2 linked regions of the Homo sapiens genome follow. The protein of the gene in region 1 interacts with the protein of each later gene in a biochemical or structural test. Each region holds a gene or a part of one and is shown on either strand. Other genes may lie near its edges.

Region 1 (7,492 bases):
AGGACCTCCCAAAGTAATTCTTATATATGAAAAAAGTATGTTTATGCTATTTTATGTAGCATAGGTTTATCATGTGTTACACATTTTTATTACCTTATTTTACTTGTTAGTAAAGATATAAACTATAAAGATATAATACAAACCATGTTTATATCTTTGCATTATGTTTACATCTTTACTTTCAAATAAATCTGTCTTCATTAAAAATTCTAGCATTCAGAGTTTTACTAAGTCAGACTGGCCTCTCTTTTATATTAATAATTTTCAAGTTTTATTTTATTGGACTAGTTTTCCTTGGGGAGATAATTCAAAAGCAGGTAATTCTGCAGTTTTTGATTATGTTTAATTAATATTAATCTCACTGGGAGTTTCTGACGTGCTAATAAAAATGCTGGCTTGGTTTATGAAAAGTGTAAACTCTAAATGTATGCCAATGACTTCAAATTTTTTCTTGTTGAAACAAACATTTTGTTGGAAACTGTGAACTACATGGCAAATTCAATTTGATAATCCTTAACAATTTAAAATTTGACTTTCTCTGTATCAAGTTTTATGTCTTTCAATGTACATATAAAAAGTGTTACTTTTTAATTCATTTAAAATATAAATTTCAAAGTATGTACCAAAAAAAAAACCCCAATGGGGGTTTTTAGTCTTTGGTTTTTTCGTTTTTGTTTTTTTTTTTTTTTTTAAGGTGCTGGTAATCTATTGTGGGATGTCCATGAAGGATTAAATAGGAAATAGTTAATGTGTCTTTTAAAAAATATTCAGGAAAACAACAGTATATAATATTCTTTATTTTTTAAGGAACATTTCCTCACGTAATAGAATTACATTAGCTTACAGTGAAACTCATTTATTTCCACAAACGAAACTTTCCTATACAACAAAGCTTGACTATCTCTCAGGAAAACATATTTAATGACTTGTGTGGAGGAGAAAAAATTATGTGTGGAAAAGTAACTCAAACCATACAAGCTGTAATACACAGAAATGCCACAGTATATCCTATTAGCATGTCACTTTATGATTCGGAAATTTGGCTGAACAGGGCCATATCAACTTCACTATTTTATCCTTCCTCTGCATCTGAAGTGAGAACAGTGCATTACACTGAAATTCCAATTGGAAACAAAGACAGCACCACTATATTTAAAAGGGCAGAAAACCTATCTTATAGAACACTTCATCGCCTCGATTTCCCAGCCTCCAAAGTTTCAAGTGTTACACTTTCAACACGTTAAAAGCACTCAAATTCCCCATCTTTCAAGGTTCATATCAAAATCATATTCACTAGTTTAAATAGGAATATGCTACCAAATCTCACAACATTGACATTTTAACAAAGAGAATTCACATTAAAAGATAACTGCTTTAAAATGAGTGCTTGTGTTTGGGAAAGCGCTATTATCTTGGTAGTCCACAGAAACTGACTGTAGTAATAAGATGAATGGTGATGAGGGCAAGGAGCATCAAGTGGGAAATGCTATCTAAAATCCCATAGGGCAATTCATAGCTAGAGGGAAGAACAACCTTTCCTAAGATGCATTATTTCCTAGAACTCCATTATTTCATGGAAGCAGTTCAAAGCATGCAAAAAAGCAAAACCATTTTAAAACACCTAGTAAACTGGGCCTCTATCTTTTTTATATTATCATAAGCCCCAGGAGTTTTTGAGAACGTACCTTCTGTCACGGCTGTCTCCCCTTCCCATCCCTTCTTCAACATAGTTGTGTTTAAAAAATATATACCTGTACTTAAAACGCAATCCTACAGCCCAGCCTAGGAGCATTTCAAAATGTCTGTGCTGCTGAGTCTGGCTGTGGTTCCTAATAAATTCACCCCATTAAGTGTGATGTTTTAGGTTGGGCAACATAAACACGCATTTCCTACTTCCATGGATGCACATTTCCTGAAAGCACTGCACCTAAGGATGCTGCCCTGTCCCCCGACGCTCAGGCACTAAACTCTAAGGAGTCACGACCTGCACTCACAGCAGAGCCACACGGTCACCCCAGTGAGAAAGATTATCTGGCCCCAAGCGCCACTCTCTCCGGCCCACTGCATCTCCGGAACTGGCAGAGGAGAGCGAGGGTGAGAAGAGACCATGGGGAGCGACTGACAACAAGGCTGACACTTCCCCGTTTCCAGAAAGCGGCACTTGGGGGACACAAGGGATGTCCCACTAGCGACCGACCTCAGAGCAGGCCCTACGAACCCGTCCACCGATGGACATGGCGCGGCCACCTGGCCCGCCGTCCGGGGCGCCCGCGGCTTTCGCTCTCCCGGCCCGCGCCCTGGAGTGCGGCTCCCGCTCCCGGCCGCCACACGCAGTCTAAACACGCGGCGCTCGCCACCTCCCTGCCCGGGGGTGGGGGCGCCGCGCAGCGCTCGCGCGGACCCACATTTTTGCGGCTCTTGTCACGCACGAGAGAAAAGGCGAGGAGGGCGGAGGGGAGGGAAGACGCGGCAGCGATCCACGGAGACGGCCGGCGCCGGTGGCGTGTGCGCGTGTGCGCGGCGGGGAGGGCGGCCCCGGCGCCCCGCCGACTCCCGCTCCCGCCCCGCGCCCGGCGCCCGCTTACCTGCCGGGGTCGCTCCGAAGACTCGCACCACCGGCACCTTCTTGACAGGGGCCTGGGTGAGGGGGGATTGGCAGGTATCCAGCCCCTGCAGCGGGCTGGCCATGTAGTAGTCTGCAGTCACTATCCTTACTGAAAACATGTTCGCCGCCGCCGCCACTGCCTCCCTTCACTGGCGACCCGGCAGCGGCAGCAGCAGCGGCGGCGGCTCCCTCCGCAGCGGCGGCGGCGCCCCCTCCCCTTCTCGGCACGGCCCCCTCCCCTCACACAGAGGCACCTCGAGGAGCGGCGGGCGGGGCGGTGTAGGCGCTGCTGCCGCCGCCTCCTCAGGAGCACCCGGCAAGGGGCCGCAGGAGAGAAGCCCTCGAGCTTTCGTCGGTGCTGGTGCTGCCGCCACTGCCGCCACCGCCGGGAATCACACGGGCTCCTCGGTCCCAGGCTGCAGCTCTTGTTGCCATGATGATGATGTCACGGACGCAACCACTGGGGGGAGGGGAGAGGGGGGTGTGTGTGGCGAAGGGAGGCTGCGAGTAGTGCGGGGGAGGGGGCTCGGCGGGAAAAGGAGCGAGAGGGCGGGCGCCCGGGCGGGACACGGAGGGCGGGGGCCGAGAAGGGGCTTTCTCCCCCTCCCCGGGCACGCGGCGAGGGAGGCGGCCGGCGGCCGGCAGCGCCCGCGCGGGATCGATGACTCGGCTGGCGGGCACGGTCACCTGGGTGAGGGGCAGCGGAAGGGGCGGCGGAGCACCGATCTCATGGATGGGCTCCGAGGGGCTTGCGGGAGGGGGGCGCCAGTGTTCGGGGCCGTTTTGGCGGCTATGCAGGATTGGCAGGAGCTGCGATGCTCACACTTGCCTCGCCGACCGCCATTTCACATCCAGCAGAGGAGGCGGGGGCAGCCGCTGAGACGGTTTTTCACAAGGTAAGAAAATCCGCCCGCGTGAGGAGGGAGGCGAGGCGCAGATCTCGTGCCGCTGCGGCCTCGCGGGAGGGAAGGGCGGGCGGGCGGCGGAACGGGCGGGGCCGGGTGCGGACGCAGCCGGCCCTTCTCAGGTAACGCCGCGGCTCCGCGCGTGGCCCGGGGGCGGTGCGAAGGGTGGGGGCGCGCGGGCGCGGGCTTCGGCCTATAAAAGGGCCGCCCTGGCGTTCCCCCTTCCCGAACGTGCCGCGCGAGCCGCGGTGCCCCCTCCTCTTTGCTGCTGCAGTGTCTGCGCCGGGCCATTTAATGAGATTTATTCACGCACGGCTCTTCTCAGCTTTGCGAGGGGTTGGCAGATCCAGTGCACAGGGATTTCCCACTACCGTGTTTTTCTCCCGCCCCCTTCCTTCCCTCTCGTCCTAATACATCCTTCGTTGGTTTCCTCGGCCCCGCAGGCTGCGTCCCGGGCACGCGCAAGTACATGTAAGGACTTGTCAGCTGCCGGTGACCTCCCTCCTCCCTCGTCGCTCCTCCCCCAGCGGAATGTAGGATTAACAGTCTTTCCGAGAAAATTTTGGCCAAAGAAAAAGGCCTGTGAAAGTCACCGCGTTAGACGTGGCCTCCTCGTGTTTTTCACTAACACGTTATGGAAGGTTTTACTACCCGAAGGCATAAAAGCACCACCGTGGGGAAGGGCCGTTTTGAATAAACAACTTTATTCAAAAATCGAGAGGGGGTGAAGCGATGCAGTTAGGGAATTTTTGTTTTAAAGAGTAGTAACATGCAGCTGGCTTGGCTATTAAATTGGAAACAAGGGGTTCCTCTCTGACTTGGCCACTGATATTGGGCGTGACCTTGGACAAATAATTTTGTTTCTTTGGGCTCAGTTTCTACATATGTAAAACGGGAAGGTTTCTCTTAAAAACTAATCCTGAAGGGTTTCTTCTCAACAAAAAGATGCAAGCTGTAGGAGGCAGAAAGCGTGGGTTCAAGTTCGAAATTTGCCCCTGAATTAGGACCCTTGACACATTTCTAACCCATCCAAGTAGAGATCGTTCTTTTACATTTGTGTGTTATACAGGTGCATTTTAGTGGTTACCAGGTTGCCACGTATTTGAAGTGGTGTGAGAGCTACTCGTTTGGAACCGTTGTGGATTTTCAAATAGGAAAATCAAAAGGCCCAAAGAGACAGCTCACTGGTAAGAAGCTGTCTATAAATTCCCTAACATATAAATGCTATAATAAGAACTTACGCTCCGAGGGATTTGAGACTGATTACTACAGTAAATTAGCTTGTAGTTTTTAACCTCAGAGCATGATTATAAACATACGTGGCAAGATTTCTACTAATATGCTGGAAATTAGCTAATATTTTTAAGAGGCAAAATCTCTTGATCTGAAATTTTAGAAGGCTATAGAAGTGATTTTAAAATATGACTACCATGCTAAAATGTATTTTTTATAAAATAAATATTTTGTACACGCCGAATGTCAGATACACAATATCAGTGATTCTCAGTGTTCCATGACACCTAGAATTCTTTAAGTGTTGATATTTTGGCTCTTACTGAATTATATTTTGGGGGATGGGGCCTGGGAATCTGTATTGTTAGCAACACTACTTGCCACCCCGTGATTCTTAAGCAAAATAAAATTGAGAATCCTTGTACTATATTATAATCAGTGTATCCATAACTTTTAAATTATAATATTCCTAACTAGAAAATGGTAAAAGCATCAAATTAACAGATTTGCGATTTCTAGAAGAGGGTTTCTTTCCCCTTACCTCTTGAATCAACATTATTTACTTTAAGAAAAGGCAGTTGCAACCACAAGTCAAATCCTTCTAGAACTCCAAGAATGTTCACTCTTGAAGAAAAACATTTGCAGCATGAAATTAGGAATGTTGTGTTCATTGCATGTAATTTAGTTTTAAGTTGATGCTCAAATTGAAAACCTGACAATAGCCCCCTAATTAACCACTATCAAATGTGTTTTATATGTATATTCTTCCTGAAGTAAGAAAAAGTTCTGGAATTTTGAGTCAGAGAATGTGAATATTAAACCATCATTTAGCTAAGTGCTCACTTATTTTTTGGAATTTATTTCCTCATCTGTGAAATGGATAGTAATTCCTGTTTTAACTTCTCAGGGATGTTATAAGGCTCAAATGAGATAATGTATGTGAAAATATAGTAAAATGTTCATATCCAGAAGTCTGATTCATTGAGAAACAGTAAAATCACTTGGAATTGACTTATCTACATACAGTATGAGAAATGCAAAAATTGAACTCTATACTTAATATCCTTAATGCTTTTTTTTTTTTTTTTTTTGAGACAGAGTCTCACTCTGTCACCCAGGCTGGAGTCCAGTGGCACAATCTTGGCTCACTGCAACCTCCACCTCCCGGGTTCAAGTAATTCTCCTGCCTCAGCCTCCCGAGGAGCTGGGACTACAGGCATGTGCCACCATGCCTGGATAATTTTTGTATTATTAGTAGAGATGGGGTTTCACCATGTTGGCCAGGCTGGTCTCGAACTCCTAACCTCACGATCTGCCTACTTTGGCCTCCCAAAGTGCTGGGATTGCAGGTGTGAGCCACCACACCTGACTGTGCTTTCTTTTTTTTTTTAGGTGGCTATTTCTTGCCAGGAGATTTGAGATATGGTGAGAAACAAAACAGACATGGTCCCTTCCCTTATAAGGTTTATAGTCTAGCATCCTAAAAATGTATTTTAATCATATCAATTAACATTTAATCATCTCTTCTAGTTCACTGACATGTACTTAGCATGTCTGCCTTTAGTAAAAGCCTACCAAGTCTCCTTTACCAATACTGTTCAACATCTGTTAACATCTGCCTGTTAGCAGTTTATAATCTAGAACAGACAGTAGTAGCTACCATACTTTTGTGGCAGATACTATAAGATGGCTTATTCAGTATTCATCCAACCCTCTTCTTGCTTACTTTTCTGTACTTTAAAAGCTGGAAAACAAACTACAGTTCTCAGACTCCTTTGCAGCTAGATTGCTGGTGTGAGATCAATGGTGTGATCAGTAAATGTTTAACAATGGCTAGAGAAGAGGGAAGGCCCTAATTTGTAGCATTGGCCAATTCGGTTTGCTTTCTTTTTGAGGAACAGGGTCTCACGATGTTGCCCAGGCTGGTCTTGAACTGCTAGGCTCCTCCCACCTCAACCTGCCAACTAGTTGGGACTACATGGTACAAATGTGTCCTCTACCAGAGTGACTTCAGTAAATGTGGAGTTAGTTGGAAAGGATGCTGACAATCAGAAGTTGGCTTCAGTATATGACCTAGTTTCCAGCAATCAGATGTACCCATTCAGGACATGGATGTGAGAGCGAGCAACATGATGCTTCAACTGCACTCAGGGAGATAAGTATCTTCTGACAAATACCATGAAGGAGGTATCTGGTTCCTCTGGGTAGGTAGGGAGGAGTTGTGGCATCTGTTCTAGAGTCATAGGTGCTGACTGGCAGGCATTGCTGGGATGGGTTTCCACTAGAATAGCTTTGTGATGTGGGATGGGTGTTCTTTGTGGTTTGGTTTTTCTTGGATGTTGTTTCTAGCTTGGTTTATCCAAGTCTGGTTCTCTGGCCCTCTGAGAGATCTGTGAACTAAATAGTATCTTTTAATCCCTTTTTGCTTCAACCAGCCCAGTCACAGCCAGCTACATAATTTGTGGAGCCCAGAGCAAAATGAAAACGTAAGGCCTCTTGTTCCAACACAGGGGAAAATGTGCTATTATCTGTATTAAAATATAAAGCTTTTTCTTTGTTCTGTCGTCGCTCTCTCCACTTGTCATAGTGTTTTTAAATTTGCTTTTTAATGTCATTCTATGAGAAGAAAAATTAAATTTTTTAATTCTTAGGATGAATTTTACCATTCATCTTTATATTGTGTAATGCCGTTTTAAAATGCAAATATAAGAGCATTTCAATTGTATGTGGAATCACCAAAATTATACAA
Region 2 (3,342 bases), on another chromosome or scaffold:
TATAAAATAGAAAATTAGGCATTCTGATATTTCTTTAGCTGCTTTGTGTGAAACCATGGTGTAAAAGCACAGCTGGCTGCTTTTTACTGCTTGTGTAGTCACGAGTCCATTGTAATCATCACAATTCTAAACCAAACTACCAATAAAGAAAACAGACATCCACCAGTAAGCAAGCTCTGTTAGGCTTCCATGTTAGTGTAGCTTCTCTCCCACAAGTTGTCCTCCTAGGACAAGAATTATCTTACAAACTAAACTATCATCACACTACCTTGTATGCCAGCACCTGGTAACAGTAGAGATTTTTATACATTAATCTTGATCTGTTTTAATCTTGATCTGTTTTAGTAGAGATTTTTATACATTAATCTTGATCTGTTTTAATCTTGATCTGTTTTGTCCTAGAAAATTCCATCATACACACATTTCCTGATATTTGGGCTTAGTGCTTCTAAATTGTTGCAGACACAAAACTTAATGATTCATTCGTAGTAGTAATCTGTAGCTAGTTTTAGGGTTTTGCTGAAGTCAGTGTGGGGTGTTTGTTTGAGGAAAAAGTTCCAAATATCCACTAGCATAGAATTTTAAACTATTTTTATTTTAAAGTTATGGCATAACATATAACATAAAAATATTTTATATACGTTTGAAAAATCTATACCGTTCTTTTTTATCATCAAAGTTTCTCAATGGCCAGTAGAAGCAAAAAGACAACACCACCTCTGATCTACGGGACATAATGTTCCCAGGAAAAAAATCTTCAAGTGGGTGTGAGGGTGTTTCTAATTCAAAATATGTAGATTTCTCCGCATGGAAGAAGTAGTAAAGATTTTCTTAACATGCTCCTGTGTTCATGCTTGGAGACAAGAATAAGATGGTTTAGAAGCTTTACCCTTTCTTGGAACAAGTAGAATCCCGGTCTGAGACCTCTCAGGAATTTCAGAGCTTAGCAGTCTGGCCTGGAGGTTTTTCAGCCTTTTAGTATAATAAACAGTAGTTGCTTCCTAGAGTTGAGTTTTTAAGGATTCACAAAAAGGAGCCTGTACAAAATATACATACAGTTCTTTATTAAACAACTGTAAACACTTCACTGTAAAAATCCATAAAACTTTATAAACAAACATTTTGTAAATAGAATCTATGCTACAGTAAAATAATTAACACAATTATTTACATGCAATACTGACAAATTTGGCACTTTTTGAAAAGAAATGTACAAAACACTTGCTTTAAAAGAAATTTAAAATTATAAAAACTCCGAGCATTACTATCATGCACTTTGCAAATACCTCACAAGCACTTATGGCACAGCTATCAGAGAGCATCAGGCTCTCTGGTAATATTTATGTAACTTTTAATGTGCTTCCATAAGTTTGTTGTAAAACCACCTGGACATTGTCAAGAATAAAGTCAAATGCCATATTCCAAACCGATTCCACCGATTGCTGCATCAGCCTAAAGGTGGGGAGAGAAGAAATGTCATTAGGAATTAGGAAAGGTCCTTAAGACTAATTATTCCTTTTTATATATAAAAATTGACTTTGGCAAAAAAAAAAAAAAGTCCTGGCCAGGTGCGGTGTGGCTCATGCCTGTAATCCCAGCACTTTGGGAGGCCGAGGAGGGCGGATCACCTGAGGTCAGGAGTTTGAGACCAGCCTGGCCAACATGGTAAAACCCCGTCTCTACAAAAAATAGAAAAATTAGGTGGGCATGGTGGCACATGCCTATAATCCCAGCTACCCGGGAGGCTGAGGCAGGAGAGTCACTGGAACCCAGGAGGCAGAGGCTGCAGTAAGCCAAGATCCTGCCACTGCACTCCAGCCTGGGCGACAGAGTGAGACTCCATCTCAAAAAAAATAAAATCCTAGAACACTCAAATTTTTTTTTATTTTGTTTTGAGACAAGCTGTCGATCAGGCTGGAGCCATGCAGTGGTGCAATCATGGTTCACCGCAGCCTCCACCTCCCAAGTAACTGGGACCACAGGTGGGCACCACCACCCCCCCAGATTATTTATTTTTTGTATTTTTCAGTAGAGATGGGGTTATGCCATTTTGGCCAGGCTGGTCTCAAACGATCCACCCACCCCAGCCTCCCGAAGTGAAGTACAGGCGTGAGCCACTGTGCCCAGCCCACTTCCTATGGTTTTTTAATCACATGTAAGACCTTGAGGGCAACATATTTGGAACCTTATTTGCTACTTAGTCAACATGGCAAAATAAAGGATATCACTTTCTCATTAACCCTAATGAGTACAGTTTCCCAGAAAGTTTAAAACAACTCAGTACACCCTCAGCCATTGTGACATGCCATTTTTTCCCATTTGATAAAAGTGATGAATTACTACCTTTTCATGTATTTTATAACTAGATCCAGTTTTTCCAAATCTTTTTCTTCTATTAGATCAGTACAGTATTTCACAACTTGGAGAATGTCTTCTTCCATTGGATCTAGGAAGGGGGAAAAACTTCAAATGAGGACCAGTCTTTTTGAAGGAGAAAGTCAGAGATCTGCATGGATAAAGGAAAACTGCATTTCTACAACTATGTCACTAACAGCTATCAAAGGAATGGGCTTTGTTACTTTTCAAAGCAAGTCCCAGAATTTAAAAGATTTGGGGGTAGCTGCTTTAAGCTTATCAGAGTTAGAGAAATGGGTTAAATCTGCATAGTTTAGTCTGTTTATGTTCTCAAATCATGAGACGACTACATCTCAGCCTTGGGCCATCTAACACAGGCCAAGCCAACCTGAAATTGTAGTTATCCATTCTCTGAGCAAGGTCTTCACATCATTGAATTCAACAGCTCCAGCTAGATTGGGTGCTGGAGGTCTCACACAGCCAGCTGGGTCAGACTGCAAACTAGAAAGGCCTGGCACACCTGAAGTAGAAGCAGAGAGTTCTTCCTGTTAAGAAAACAAAGGATAAAATTGCTATATTCACACATTATCCAGGTATATTAAGATCTCATAAAGGTCAAAGTTAAGGAATTACCAGGGGTTTCTCTGCAGGAGGTCCTTCATGTTTTAGAAACCCATCAATTAACTTCTGGGGACTGCCACAGGCCCCTGGCAGAGTTTTTGCAGGACTGTTAAGCAGCTTGTTATTCAAAGGACTCTGAATCCTTTTTGGTGAACCAATGGTTTTTTTCTTCTTGTTTCTTTTCTTTTCTTTCACTGCTGCCTTTAGATGAAGTAAAGGATTCTTTGGCACTAAGAGCAGATGGATATAAGATCCTCAACAAAATGATAGTATGGATAGTCTGGATGACAGTATTGGGTTCTCTTTTCTCCTCCCAAATACAACAGGCTCCCTAGCCTACACCTCCCCTCCTGCCCCAAGTGAGAG

What was found.
Region 2: the proteins of REV3L (region 1) and REV1 form a complex in vitro, tested with the Homo sapiens proteins (one study listed by BioGRID).

Annotation. Positions count from the first base shown.
Region 1 is NC_000006.12:111,480,165-111,487,656, forward strand, and holds the start of REV3L (DNA polymerase zeta catalytic subunit), read right to left. Parts: upstream 3,055-7,492; 5' UTR 2,725-3,054; coding exon 2,586-2,724; intron 2,448-2,585; exon of another isoform or gene 1-2,447. UniProt on the Homo sapiens protein: Catalytic subunit of the DNA polymerase zeta complex, an error-prone polymerase specialized in translesion DNA synthesis (TLS). Lacks an intrinsic 3'-5' exonuclease activity and thus has no proofreading function.
Region 2 is NC_000002.12:99,399,901-99,403,242, forward strand, and holds the end of REV1 (DNA repair protein REV1), read right to left. Parts: intron 3,207-3,342; coding exon 2,989-3,206; intron 2,901-2,988; coding exon 2,744-2,900; exon of another isoform or gene 2,447-2,743; coding exon 2,344-2,446; intron 1,453-2,343; coding exon 1,341-1,452; 3' UTR 577-1,340; downstream 1-576. UniProt on the Homo sapiens protein: Deoxycytidyl transferase involved in DNA repair. Transfers a dCMP residue from dCTP to the 3'-end of a DNA primer in a template-dependent reaction.